Linked DNA regions of Homo sapiens. The protein of the gene in region 1 interacts with the protein of each later gene in a pairwise test. Each region holds a gene or a part of one and is shown on either strand. Other genes may lie near its edges.

The links. Proteins that work in one complex are often made in the same cells at the same time.
Region 2: the proteins of TMBIM1 (region 1) and B3GALNT2 interact in binary tests that used the Homo sapiens proteins (3 or more experiments, as listed by UniProt).

What each region holds. Positions count from the first base shown.
Region 1 is NC_000002.12:218,289,070-218,296,671, forward strand, and holds the start of TMBIM1 (protein lifeguard 3), read right to left. Parts: upstream 3,435-7,602; 5' UTR 3,397-3,434; intron 928-3,396; exon of another isoform or gene 897-927; intron 1-896. UniProt on the Homo sapiens protein: Negatively regulates aortic matrix metalloproteinase-9 (MMP9) production and may play a protective role in vascular remodeling.
Region 2 is NC_000001.11:235,480,372-235,487,999, forward strand, and holds part of B3GALNT2 (UDP-GalNAc:beta-1,3-N-acetylgalactosaminyltransferase 2), read right to left. Parts: intron 4,145-7,628; coding exon 3,951-4,144; intron 1-3,950. UniProt on the Homo sapiens protein: Beta-1,3-N-acetylgalactosaminyltransferase that synthesizes a unique carbohydrate structure, GalNAc-beta-1-3GlcNAc, on N- and O-glycans. Has no galactose nor galactosaminyl transferase activity toward any acceptor substrate.

The DNA of each region.
Region 1 (7,602 bases):
GGAGTAGAAGCCCCTGAGGCATCTGTAGCACGCACCTGCGTGAATAGGCAGCACCAGGGTGGGGCCAAGGCAGTAAAGATCAAAACGATAGATAGAAAGGAGCTGAGCAAGCTGTTGTTGCTACCATTATTTCTTTCCCCTGCGGAAAGTTGATCTGAAGCCTGGGTCCTGGGCTAGGAGGTGGGGACCTGAAGTTCTTGTCCTGGCTTTGGGACTCACTCCACTGTGAGAGCCACATCTCTAGACCCAGTTTTAACATCAGTAAGACAATTCCCCTCAAATGAAAGAATGGCCAGGCGCGGTGGCTCATGCCTGTAATCCCAGCACTTTGGGAGGCCGAGCCAGGCGGATCACTTGAGGTCAGGTGTTCGAGACCAGCCTGGCCAACATGGTGAAACCTCGTCTCTACTAAAAATACAAAAATTAGCCGGGCATGGTGGCACATGCCTATAATCCCAGCTTCTCGGGAGGCTGAGGCAGGAGAATCACTTGAACCCAGGAGATGTAGGTTGCAGTGAGCCGAGACCATGCCACTGCACTCCAGCCTGGGCGACAGAAAAAAAAAAAAAAAAAAAAACTGAAAGATCAAAGTCCACTCTGCCAGTTTCTGATTCTGAATGAACAGCCTAACAGGAGGCTTCAGGGCAGAATGGCATGGCTCCCCAAGAACCTACACCAGGGGGTCACTACTGATGTGCAACTGTTTCCAAGGACATCTTCAGAGGCAGAAGTACATGGCATGTTCTCAGTATGGGGCTGTCCACACCCTCCCAAACTGTCCCCATAATGCTGTCTGGACCCTACGGCCAGCTCTTCCTGGGTGATCAGTTACGCCCGAGCTAAACAGTATATAACACTCTAGGAAAGAAAGAGTAGGAGGCAGGAAGTCCACTGACCTGGGTTCATGAACTAGCTGCAGGAATCCAGGCAAATGACCTCCCCTGGCCTCCTTTTATCCCTAAATCAGCCCACGTGGGGGAAAGGAGTAGGGACTTGTTTATGGGAGCCACAGTGGAGAAACAGAATCACCTAGCCAGGCATTTCCCAGACTGTTCTAAAGAACACGCCCCAGGAGACGTTAATGAATGAGTGCTGGAAACAGATGACTCTTGAGAAACAATCCACACCCCCTTCTTGGAAATTCACAATGGCATATTCTGCCCCTGAGAAGTCCTGCAGTAAGCAACCCTGTTCAGCTTTGTTTAACCCAGTGTTCCTTCAAACTCCCTTAAGCCTGAGCCACTTTTATCGAGGCAAACCTATTAACACCCTGTGGGATGCTGACCCAGGCCACCTTTGTATTACAGACACCCAACCCTGAGAATCATTCATATCCTAACTCCTCGTCTCTTATAACCTCTGTGCGTACACCCAGCTGCCCCTCAGAGCAGTCACATGAAGTACTAGACATGCCCTCTCACTCTCAGGGGGTCAGCCCAGTGCCAGGATCTCTGGCGAGGGTCCTCCCCTTCCCCCATTCCACACAGCTGCTATCCCACCGTGGGATTTACTGCCAAGGGCCGGGGGACATATCCAGCTACCACAGAACCAGGAAACGGGCACCCCTAACCTCACCTCTGTGCAACGGGGCAAAGCACAAATCATTACAGACAAAAGTGGGAGCTCATTAATATCTCCCTTCCCACCAATGGAGGTACCTGCCACTGTAGCCTGTCGACTTCTGGATATCATTTCTACTTCAAAACAAGACCCAGGTTTTGGCCTAGAATCCCAGAATCTTAGGGTTGGAAGATTCTGTCAAGGTCATCCCTTCCACTGTGTCCCCAACAGAATAGGTCCAGAAGGCCCATGTCATGATCAGACATGTTGTTAGCAGAACTTCTTCCCAGAGAATTGTATGAGCTTCCACTCTCTGGTCGTCCCAGTTCAGCCCTCTGAAAACACACAAGTATGTGTGTTTCCCTTCTCTGTGGCTTCTGCTTTTTCTGAAAGGCCCAGGGTGAGGCCTGCGGTTGGAGGTGCTCTGAGGTAGACAGCGTCTGGCTGAGGCACCCATTCCCAGGGGAGGAGGCTGAGCCCAGGTGGCTATTACCCCAGCTCATGACATGAGGCTCTCCCAACACTTACAGGATAACCCATCATTACCTCTCTGAAGGGCTCATTTTTACAAGTGAGGCCTTGAGGTCATAGCACAGAAAGACAGGGCCCCTGACACTGTGGTCCTGCCTCTTCCATTTAAGCTATAAACTGGTTCTCTGGATCCTCATGACTGGAGAGACAGAGAGAGGAGGCAGGTGAGAAGGAAGTATGGCTCCCCCTTTGCGCCAATAAAGCAGCCCCAGGAGGCACCTGGCTCCCCTGCCACCACTGGCCAGCCCAAAGTCGCCAGCTTGGAAACCAAAGCTCACTAATGAGATGAATATTTCAGAGCCCAGAGAACTGGACACCTGAGGGCCCTTCCATGACATCTGGCTCTGACCTGCGTTCCCAGGCCTACTTATCCCATGTCCAGGGTGCTCAGGTAGAACCCCAAACTCCTGGGTACCACGTAGAGGCCACAGAGGAGGGAGAGGAGATGGAGACCCCATAGGACAAGAATTGGTGCCGACCCCACAAGGCCAGGGCCTGGCCTCCCAGCAGCCTCCCTCTGCTTCCTCCCACTGGTCCCTGGCTCCTGCCCCAGTCTCTCCACTTGCTTTCCCTTTTCCCGTTTCTCTGTTTTGTTTTCACTCTAACCCAAAGAAGTCACGAGGAGGATGTTACTCCCCTGTAGTTCTGTGAACCCAGCCGGGAAACAGTGGCTGGAAGTGGGACTGGCAGAGGGCAAAGTCATGGTGATAGAGGTGGCCACTTCCCCATGCCAAACACTTGAGCTGCTCATTGGCTTCTGCCCCAGCTGCAAGCTAGGACCCCCCCTTCCCCACCCCTTAAATATTCACCTGTCTACACCGAGACTGGCCTCAGCGCGTGTGGGGGCAACCTGGGGTCCGTGCCAGGCCCTGGCTGTCTCCCCTCCCTCTTCCCTCTTCTCACCAGCTGAGGGCCATGAAAGCCCTCATCCCACACAGCTGGCCACTCGGGCTGGCATGGTGGATAGGCCCTGCGACAGAGAGGCCACTCGTGCCCGAAAGAGGGAACACGAGGACACCCCCAGACCCTGGCTCCGCTCACCAGTGCCCACAACACGCTGCTGGGCTCCCAAGGCTAACCAGGTGCCACAGACCCGGCCGCCCACCCGCGCGCCCAGGGAGAGCGAAACGCCAAGGGCCAGGAGGGGAGATCCCCATCTGGAACGGGCTCCTTGGGCCCAGGAGCGGGCAAGCCGGGAGCGCGCTCCGAAAAGTTTAGGCGCCCCGGCGCATGGCCGCCCCAGCCCTGGACCAGTCCCCACCGCCCACAGTCCCCAACGGCGCCGGCCCCGGCCCCCTGGCTTGCCTGCGCCGTTCCAGACGGAGCGTTCCTGGCCTCGGAGTGTTGCAAGTCCTCCGGGGCCGGGCAGGGCTAGGCTCGGCTGGGGCTCCGCGCCCCGCCCCGTCGCGCCGGCCTCGTGGGGCGGGGCCTCAGGGCGCCGCCAGGGGGCGCAGGGGTCTGTCCCGGGCGCGCGCGCCTCTCAGAGCCCCGACGACGCCTCACTAATAACACAGGGGTATTTTCGGATTTAAAGGCAATACATGATACTGATAGGAAGCTAGAAAAGACACAGAAATGCAGGGAAGAAAGTAATTTCTCTCCACCCCTCCTAGTTCCCAGGGGGAAGCGTTCGCTTTGGGTCCTTCTTTGGCTATTACATTTCTGTATGTATTTTGTTTTTCTACAGTGGGGTATATTGTATGGTGTTTTGTTTACTGCCCTTCTTTTTACTGTTTTATGATGAACATTTTTCTTCTCACTAAATAGTCTTCAAAAGCACAATCTTAATGCCGTGAAGTATTCCATTGCATGGCTATGCGGATTAAATTAATTTCCTACTGGAGGCCGTTTGTTTCCCATTTTTACATTACAAATAAATCAGTAATTAAAATCCTTGATAATTCTGTGTTTTTGAGATAAATGCACTTTTCGAGTTTAAAACTGCAAACATGCAAACCTAGAATCTCTGTTTATAATTACTCAACCAGGAAAGCAGGTGCTTTCCTCAAGTCAGAATTCAGAAGTCCTACATTGAGATGTAGATTACTACTGTTAGGTAGGTCTTAACCCTCATCTCAGTGAAGAATGCAGTAGCAAAGGAGGAAACAGTTTTGAGGAAGTTCTGAAATATTACTGGAGCCTGGGCATGGTGACTCACACCTGCGATCCTAGCACTTTTGGGAGGCCAAGGCCAGAGGATGGCTTGAGCCCAGGAGTTGGAGACCCAGCCTAGGCAACATAGAGAGACCTTGTCTCAATTTAAAAAGAGAAACATTACCGAGCCTTGCCTGAGTTTCTGTGGTTCCAAAGTCCAAGTTCTTTCCATGACACCAAGGCTGCCAGTAGTTGACCAACTCTGTTTAAAGTGCTTATCTCATGTTAATAGCTATAGGTCAGCACCACACCACCACTGAATGTCCTTTTTTTTTTTTTTTTTTTTTTCCAGACAGGGTCTCGCTCTGTCACCCAGGCTGGAGTGCAGTGGCGCCATCTCGGCTCACTGCATCCTCCTCCTGGTTTCAAGTGATTCTCCGGCCTCAGCCTCCTGAGTAGCTGGGATTACAAGTGTGTGCCACTACACCCAGCTAATTTTGTTTGTTTGCTTGTTTGTTTTGTTTGGTTTGTTTGTTTTGTAGAGATGGGTTTTCACGTTGTTGCATAGGCTGGTCTCAAACCCCTGAGCTCAAAGCAGTCAGCCCACTTTGGCCTCCCAAAGTGCTAGGATTACAGACATGAGCCACCACGTCCAGCCCCAAAACAGAGATTTAAAAAAAAAAAAAAAAAAAAAAGACAGATTTTTAAAAACTGCCCCCCATACACACACTATGTATGTTTATTTCTGTAAATATAGTTTAAGTAGGAGTTACTTAGGGGGACTAGTGGCCGTTATGGTGGGCTAGCTCCCCAGACACCCCAACCCTTCAGTGTACTTCCAGTTCCTACAGGCCAAGAACCTCATTTTAGGAAGTCCCCACCCAAGGTGTGATCTCACCAGAGCAAGTACAGTTCTGCTCAGTGTCTGTCTCCCCCTTGCTCAAGGAGTAGCGCCCTAGGTGAAATGCATGGCCCATGGAATCTGTCCAGATCCCTGACATTTTTTCATGCTCTCTACACTTGTGCTGTCTTAGTCCATCTGGGCTGCTACAACAAAAATACCTTAGAGTGGGTAATTTAGAAACAGCAGAAATGTATTGCTCACAGTTCTGGAGGGTGGGAAACGCAACATCAAGGCACCAGCAGGTTAGGTGTCTGATGAAGGCTCCCTCTGCTTCACAGATATCGTCTGAGTCCTCATATGGCCAAGGAAGGAACAAACAGACACCGCCCCCCCACCAGCCTTCCTTTTTTTTGAGATGGAATCTCACTCTGTGCAATGGCACAATTGCAGCTCACTGCAGCCTTGACCTCCCATGTACAAGCAATCCTTCCAACTCAGCCTCCTGAGTAGCTGGGACTACACACATGCACCACCACACCTGGCTAATTTTTGTATTTTTTGTAGAGACAGGGTCTCACTATGTTGCCCACGCTGGTCTTGAACTCCTGGGCTCAAGCAATTTGCCCTCCTCCACCTCCCAAAGTGCTGGGATTATAGGCGTGAGCCACTGCACCTGGCCACCAGCTTCTTTTCTAAGAGCATGAATTCCATTCCAGAGGGTTCCGCCTTCATGACCTAATCACTTCCTAAAGGCCTCACCTTTTAATACTATAACATTGAGGATTAAGTTTCAACAAATGAATGGAGTGGGGACAACAACATTCCCACCATAGCAGGCCCCTTCTCCAGAAAACACCCTCCACTTTCTAGAACCACCAGGATGGTTAATATCCAAGGAGATTCCATTTCCAACCAGCAATCACCAGCGACTCACATCTGCCCGACTGGGGGAGTGGGACATGGGGCACACGAGGCAAGCCCACACAAGCCTTGCTGCGTGCTTTTTCTCCAGAGCCCTTTTTCTGACTATAGGGTCAAAAATAACACCTGAAGCGCCTGGCCCAGAGCAGCAGTGCTTCGCTGGCAATAGGCATTCGATAAATGATGTTTTTTTCTCTTGGGCCTTATCTGCAAAATTATTAAGTAAGCTTTTATTGTCTGCCAACCAGACAGGAATTTCCGGTTCTAGAAATGAGAAGGCTGAAAGAACACAGCCCCTGCTCTCAAGAAACTCACAGTCTAAGGGAGCCAGTAAAATGACAGATTATTACAATGTTGACAGTTTGACAAGTGCTGGCAGATAAAGAAATATTCACTTGGTTCCTCCAGATCCCAGAGAAAGCTCCTAACCCAGTGTGGGGAATGGGGTGGGGGTTCGGGAAAGGAGTTCAGAGGAGGTGACACCTGAGTAGAGTGTTAGGAGGTGTTAGGAACCAGCCTATTCGGAGGAGGGGAGAAGGTTCTCCAGGCAGAGGGCAAGGGACTTAGGGCCAGTTGCCCCAGCAAGCTAGGATGGGGGGTGGAGGGTGCAGTGGGGTAGAAGGGGTAGGAAATAGGGCTGGCCAAGGAGGCAGGGGGCCAGAAATTGAGATTTTACCCTGAAAGCAATGGGGAGCCAGAAAATAACCACCTAGAGGGAGTTTGGGAGGGTTGGGGAGGCTCTGGTGGTGCCCCTGGGGTAGGGTTCCAGCTTTAGCAAATAAAGATGCAAGGCAACCAGTTTGAGCTTCAGATAAACAACAAACCTTTTTTTTTTTTTTTTTCAAGACAAGGTCTGGCTCTGCACTCCCAGGCTGGAGTACAGTAGTGCGATCTTGGCTCGCGGCAACCTCCACCTCCCAGGCTCAAGCCATCCTCCCACCTCAGCCTCTCAAGTAGCTGGGACTACAGACATGAGCACCACCACGCCCGGCTAATTTTTGTATTTTCTGTGGAGACAGGGTTTTGCCATGTTGCCCAGGCTGGTCTTGAACTCATGAGCTCAAGCAATCCATCCGCCTCACCCTCCCAAAGTGCTGGGACTACAGGCATGAGCCGCTGCGCCCGGCCAAACAATATTTTTTCATATAAGCATATCCCACTGCCCCATATAATATTTGGAAATACTTGTACTAAAAAAAAGTACTCATTGCTTATCTGAAATTCACATTTAACTGGTTGGTTGTATTTTTCCAGCAACACTACCTAGGAGGAAAGTGGAGTCAAGTCCATGGCTGCAGGAAGAGGGGTGGAGGAGTGAAAGGGATTAGACTGATGTTTATTTTAGGACTGGATGTTATTTTAGGTATTTTAGGACTAGCTAAAGCTTAGTGATTGGTGGGAGGGGGTGGTGGCAGCCTGGAAGGGGTGGGCCCAGGTGGAACCTGAAGGACATGGGCAGGAAAAACTTAATTGGAGCGGTGGATCCAGAGAACTTTCTCTGTTGCCACCCTCCAGCCCAGCCCCAGGACTCCACTAATTGGTCCTCCAAACCCTTCTCATAGCTGCCTGGTTACCTAGCATTTAATGTGTTACTCTACCCATGCATTGATCACTAACTTTCTGAAAGAAGTTGCCTTTTTTCTGTTTTTCTT
Region 2 (7,628 bases), on another chromosome or scaffold:
CAAATGCTAAACATAATCCACATAACCTTAAAAAAAAAACCCACCTTGAAAGAAAAAATATTCAGGGAAGTGAGCAGTGTTGTTAAATTAAGCCAACACATTATAGTGTCAACACTCCCCCAAAGGGTTAAAACTAAACTGAAAGACACAGATTTTTACTGGGAACAAAAGCACTCAGGAAACTCCGTTCAAAAAGAATCTTCAGAAGAAAATATAAACAAAACAAAAAAGGGAATATAAAAGAGGACTGGAGCCAGGTGCAGTGGCTCACGCTTGTAATCCCACCACTTTGGGAGGCTGAGGCAGGCAGATCACTTGAGGTCAGGAGTTCCAGACCAGCCTGGCCAACATGTGAAACTCCAAATTTCTACTAAAAATACAAAAATTAGCTGGGTGTGGTGGCAGGCACCTGTAGTCCCAGCTACTTAGGAGGCTGAAGCAGGAGAATCGCTTGAACCCAGGAGGTGGAGGCTGCAGTGAGCCAAGACTGCACCACTGCACTCCAGCCTGGACCGCAGAGCCAGACTCTGTCTCAAAAAAAAAAAAAAAAAAAAAAAAAAAAAAAAAAAAAAAACCGGACTGATTTTCACTATGTCTATCGTTTTCTTGGGTTCTCCCATTTCTTCCAGGCAACATTTCCTCATTCTCATGCCTATTCTTATATACCAACTTAACCATAGGGGAAACTTCTGTTAAGCTCTTAAAACCATGCAGGGGTTCAAAATTAAGCACATTTCAATGGATTATGTCTATTTCTTTCATGAACACCAGTTCTTAGCAATGCAGTATAAGAATAGTTTTTGCATCGTGACTACCCATGAACCCATTAGCATCCATCTTAGACTAGTCCTTCCTTGAGGACAAAGATTAACTCCTCCCTGGTTAAAAATATGGCAACTAGAAGTTATATCGACATGATCAAAATATTGTATGTCTGAACCAAACTACTTGATTGATAACTCGCACACTATAAATAGTTTTGTTTTTTGAGACAGTCTCACTCTGTCACCTAGGCTGGAGTGAGTGGTGCAATCACGGCTCACTGTAATGCAGCCTCGACCTCCTGGGCTCAAGTGATCCTCCCACCTCAACCTACCAAGTAGCTGGGACTGTAAGCAAATGCTACCATGCCTGCCTATTTTCTTAATTTTTTGTAGAGATGGGGTCTCACTGTATTGCCTAGGCTGGTCTCTAACTCCTGGGCTGAAGCAATCCATCTGCCTTGCCCTCCCAAAATGCTGGGATTACAGGCGTGAGCCATTGCGCCTGGCTGATAGTTTTTTTTTTAAACTATATATACTAAGATAAACAAGTGTATCAAAAAAATTCAAGATTAATTCTAATTTCTAGATAACAGTGATACTCAGAGTACTGCTATTTCAATTACCTATTTGATCTTCAGTATCAATGAAACTGTTAACTACAATCATATATGGACTCCTATAGTTGAGTATACAAAGCTCTTCTCACTAATCATTATAGCTGGCATCATCAGTAGAAATCCTACTCTTCCCTCTGTCTTATATTTATGTCTATAAACACATCAACAAACGAGACAGATTATTTAGAGGAAGAACAGGGCAAATTCCAAAAAAGAAATTTAATCTCAAATTTATTTGTGTATTTATTGATGAGTCTCTAACATTATATTCATTGCTAATAATCAACATTAATAATACAAACACATTTTAAAAAACTGAACAGAGTTCTGCTGCCAGTAATATCAGACCAATTCTCCTATAGATAGTAACTATGAACTCTGGATGAAACATAAAAAACAATGATTTGAAGGCACTGGAATTCAAACAAACAGGCAGAAACTAGAGAAGAATCAGTACTTGGAAGAAGGAAAAGGCTCCAAATATGCATCTCCTCCCTACCCCACTTCTTGACTCTTTGTCTGAGGATACAACTCTAGGGTAACTAGAAATTTGAATGAAAATCTGTAGTCTTTCTGCTTGAAAATTAAGAGGACAGAGTTGGGGCAAACACATCAATTAATAAAAGGCATTAGGGGGAACCTCCCAGAAAGGAAAGGATCACAGAGAGAGAGAACCACAAATTCTTCATATAAACTCTACCCAAATCTGTGGCTGACTCATGAAATACACATACAAGGCAGAACCCAAGTAGCCCATCCAAGGCCAGAGAAACTGAATAGAGATTTTAGCTGTTTCTCACTGCAAGTGAGACAATGTTTAGTCTGTGTCCAGCCAATTTAGCTGCCTGCTAAAACAAAAAAAAAAAATCAATACTCTGAGGAATATAATAGGATCCAGAGTTCCTACAATGAATTATTTACAATATCTAGGATACAATGCATGAGTAGCATGTAGTCCCAGCTACTCAAGAGGCTGAGATGGGCGGATAGCTTGAGCCCAGGAGTTTAAGGCTGCAGTGAACCACGACTGTGCCACTGCACTCCAGCTCAGGTAAAAGAGCGAGACCCTGTCAAACAACAACAAAAAAACCGAAACCCAAACCAAAAAACCCCCCAAAATACTAGACATAAAACAGAAAAATGTTACCCATATTTTAGAGGAAAGATAATAATCAATAAAGACAGACGCTGAGATGACTCAGAATAAGCGTACACAGATTTTAAAGCTGCTGTTATAACTATGGTCAAAGCTGTAGAGAAAAATATTCTCAAACAATGAACACATAGGAAATTTTAGAGAAATAGAAACAGTAAAAAAGAACTAAATGGAAACTGAAGCACTAAAAAGTATAATATTTAAAATAAATCTAAAATAAAAAATTCATTGGATAGGCTTAACTTCAGATTTGAGATGACAGAAGAGTCACTAAACTTGAATACAGATGAACAGAAGTTATCTACATTAGAAAAGAGAAAAAACACTGAAAAAAATGAACAGTCTTGTGATCTGCAGGACAATACCAAAAGATCTAACATACATGTAACTGGAATCCCAGGAGGAATAGAGAGAGCGAGCGAAGTCAGAAAAGGTTCTGAAGACATTAATAGTTGAAAATCCCCCAAATTTGGTAAAATACATACATTTACAGATTGAAGAAACATGTAGCACGCCCTGAATAAAACAGACAAAGAAAAAGCACACCAGGCCTGGTGCGGTGCCTCACGCCTGTAATCCCAGCACTTTGGGAGGCTACTTGGGAGGCTGAGGCAGCACTCTGGGAGGCCGAGAAGGGCAGATCACTTGAGGTCAGGAGTTTGACACCAGCCTAGCCCACATGGCAAAATCCCATCTTTACTAAAAATACAAAAATTAGCCAGGTGTGGTGGCATGCACCTAGAATCCCAGCTACTTAGGAGTAATAAACCAAATACAGGAAAACGTTAATTGTTGTAGAATGTAGTTAGTGGCTATAGGGTTTACTGAATAATTCCTTCAAGTTTTCTTCATGTTTAAAACTAAAAAACAGATCCTTCAAATACATTTCCATGCTGCTACTTCACATGCACTCTGTGAACAAATCAGATTTCCCTACATATCGGGAATAGAGAAACCTCACTGGTTTTCTGTTTTCTGTAAAAGAATAACTTTTATTCCCTCTATATCCTTATTACAAAAAAGATTTGAAGCAGTTATTAGCCTTGTATTACAGACTTCTACAGTTGGAAGTAAGAGGCAATAATACTCACTTATCCTAAGAATCCTAAACTTTTTTTATATCCATTACCAACTTTTGAAATTCCCTAGGTTTTAGGGAATTTTAGGTTGGAGATTTCTAATCTAGTCAACTCCTTCTCTTCTAGATATAGCACATTTATTCACAGATAATCTATCCCCAAACCAGTCTTATATCACACTACAGTGTATTTAGTCAATAGGGGAAGAAAGGTGAAAGTCTCTCAACCAGAGAGAATTATATAGTCTTCCAATCTACTTACTGTATGTCACAAGGAAAAGTTGATGTTTTTGAAAAAGAAAAAAGAGAAAAAACCTGTACAGAGCAGTGCATACCTCTTGTTCTGCCTGATAAAGTTTGACAGTGATGTTCCTCTGGAAACCCACATCATTGGCATCGTAGAACACTCCAAGACTGGTAATAACGATGGGGTAGAGAACTCGGAAACTCACGCTGACAACTCGATCCTCAGGCAGCCCCGATGAAGTGTCTTCGGACAGACTGAACGCTTCAATTTCCTGATTCAAAACTAAGTAATGAGAACAGGTTTATATAACTGAACAAATGTAATCCTTTGTTTTACTAGTAAGAAGTAGTGAAGTGGGCTTAATGCCAAAACCTAGGTAATCATTTGCTATATAATTCACAAATGGCAGGAATTTTTAAAAAATGCTTGAGAAAAATGGCTGCTTCTATATAAACATTTTTGAAATTTAAGAATAAAGTTTTCAGCCACATCTAAGTAAGTTAATTATCAGAACTGCTTTAATAGCTTTTTGCATAAATGTGTGCATATATATGTATAAACGCCACAGGAGATATTAAATTTAAGTCAACTGGAAGGCATCTATTTGGAAGGGTTGGATAAATAGAAATAAGAAAAACAGTACTGACTGTAGTCATAAATAATCAGTAAATTTGGTCTTACTGTGCAAATTCCAAAAATCCTACTTCTTGTTAGGCAATTTAAAATACTTGTGATACATCAGGCAATTATTACGGTATAAATAAGCAACTGAAGTCACTTCAAATAACACTGAAAAACTCTTGCTGTACAGCACTGATAAAAGATAAGCATATCAAACACAGTTTTGAACCATCTTCTATGTACCATTTCCCATCACATTTATATCTTCACTACTACCCTTGTGGTTGTGGCATTATCTCCAGTTTACATATTAAGAAACTGAGGCCCAAAATTAAGCAATTCACCTAAGGTCATAGAAAGTGGCAGATCCAGGAATCAAGTCCCATTTAGTGATTCCAAAGTCAGTCCCCTTTCCACTCCCTCACAGCTGTCTAATCAGTGCCAAAACAGTTCAAATAATTTTTCTTTTATTTCTTTTTTTGAGACAGTCACCCAGTCACCCAGGCTGCAGTGCAGTGGCATGAACATGGCTTATTGCAGTCTCAACCTCCTTTGCTCAAGGGATCCTCCTGCCTCAGCCTCCTGAGTAGCTGGGACCGCAGGCACACACCACCAGGCCTTGCTAATTTTTTGTAGAGATGGGGGTCTCATCATGTTACCCAGGCTGGTCTTGAACTGCAATCCTCCCGCCTCAGCCTCCCAAAGTGCTGGGATTACAGGCATGAGCCACTGTGCCCAGCCTTCAAATAAATTTTCTAATTACCATAAATGAATCAGAATACATTAAATAAAGCAGTTCATAGGCAGGGAATATCAGTGCTACTTTAATAATATAAAACCCTATTTTAAAAGATTATATCAAAGTTCTTTGTATCTTTTAGAGCTGTGGTTTTCAAATTTTGCTGACTACACAACACCATCAGTTAAAAATATTTGTACACACACCTATTTACTTACAAAATATATGCATATATTGTGGTGAGTCTATATATTCAGTATTAATAAAGATTGTATTTTCTTATTTTCAGATAAATAGAAATTCTAAGCCTGGGCAACATGGTGAAACTCTGTCTCTACGATACAAAAATTAGCTGGGCGTGGTGGCACACACCTGTAATCCCACCTACTTGGGAGGCTGAGGCACGAGAATTGCTTGAGCCTGGGAGGAAGAGGCTGCAGTGACCTGAGATTGTGCCACTGCAGTGCAGCCTGGGCAACAGAGCAAGACCCTGTCTCAAAAAAAAAGAAATTACATTTTCTTCCTATACTCTAGGTCATTTGGTTGCCCACGTCAGACTTCCTAGAAGCTCTTTACACTCAGTAGATATTCAGTAAAATGGGATTAAAGGGAAGTGATGACTCCTACCTAATTATAGACATGAACAGGAGGGAAAAAAGGGAGAATACAGTTTTTTGTCATGGGCTGGGCAAGCACTAACTGGAGAGTCTAGACTACAACATAATGGACAACAATACAATTTTTTCTCTTTAAGATATTCAGTAAATAACAGATATCCATAGTAGAAACCTCTTTATTAAAAGCAATAAGTCAATTATAATATAGCATTTTTAGATATTTTCTTATCTAAAAGAATTGTGCCTTGAGCTTCAAGTTACGTGGACACAGGAAATCCCGTTGCATTACAGTGCTATTAAACCTTCTACCACAGCCACAGTATCACGATGATTAATGCTTACCATGACCTTCAGGTACTGAAATAACCATAACTGCCTTTGGATCATCGAAAAGATAAGATTAGGTTCAATATTAACTTAGTTATATACGCATTTAAAAATTCATAACCTAGGTATTACATATATGAAAATGTTCTTTTAACATAAAGTTCTACTTCTTTACTTTTAATAAATAACAGCACTTAAGATAATAAAAATATGGTTAATTTAAAAGTGAAGGGCTTCTTTTTGTTTTGGTTTGGTTTTCAATTGTAATTTGTTGGAGGATACATCAGTGGATACCACATCAGTGACATAACATTCTATGGGGTTTATGATCCCTTTAAGACTCCAGTGAGGCCAGGCGTGGTGGCTCACGCCTATAATCCCAGCACTTTGGGAGGCTGAGGGGGGTGGATCACGTGAGGTCAGGAGTTTGAGACTAGCCTGGCCAATGTGGTGAAACCCCATCTCTACTAAAAATAAGTCAGGCGTGGTGGCGGGCACCTGTAATTCTAGCTACTCGGGAGACTAAGGCAGGAGAATCGCTTGAACCTGGGAGGTGGAGGTTGCAGTGAGCCGAGATCGCGCCATTGCACTCCAGTCTGGGTGACAAGAGCGAAACTCTGTCTCCAAAAAAAAAAAAAAGACAAGACTCCAGTGAAAGCCAAAGGACTTTCTCCCCAGCACACAATTCATACATAAAATTTGCTTACAATGTTAACTGAATTCACAGACATCCTAAGTAAGAAACCTCTATTTTGTAATACAGACCTGAATATATTGTCCAATTTATTTAAAAAGCTGTTTGAAACCCAGCTTTATAAAATAGCAGGCTCTTTAAAATAATGTTCAGTACCTTCCACCTTCTAGGAACTATTATTCTAAATACATCATATGTATCAACTTATTTCATCCTTATGTCAATCCCCATGAGGGAGATTCTTTTATCCCAAGTTTACAGATGATAAAACTGAGGCAGAGGAGGTCACACAGCTAGAAAATGGCAAAGCTTGGATTGAGAGCCATGGAGACTGCTTATAAAAGTGAGGTGTTACTTAATTATACAGTTTTAACAAACCTTAAAATACCAGAAGTCCTAATCAGCATATTTAAGACTTGGAAGTATAACCTCCCTTAGAAACACAGCTGAACATAATGGGAATTGCTAATAAACACAGACAGTTAAAAACTTATCAACTTCCTAAAATTGGTTCCCTGGTGACACAGAGAACCTAGTTAGGATCAGCTTTCTTTCGTTGTCTTTGTTTTTGAGACAGGGTCTCGCTCTGTCACCCAGGCTGGAGTGCAGTAGCGGAAGCAGATCATAGCTTACTGCAGCCTCGAACTGCTGGACCCAAGCAGTCCTCCTACCTCAGCCTCCCAAGCAGCTGGAACTACAGGCATGAGCCACAATACTTGGCTAATGTTTTTTTTTTCAGACATGGGAGCTCACTATGTTGCCCAGGCT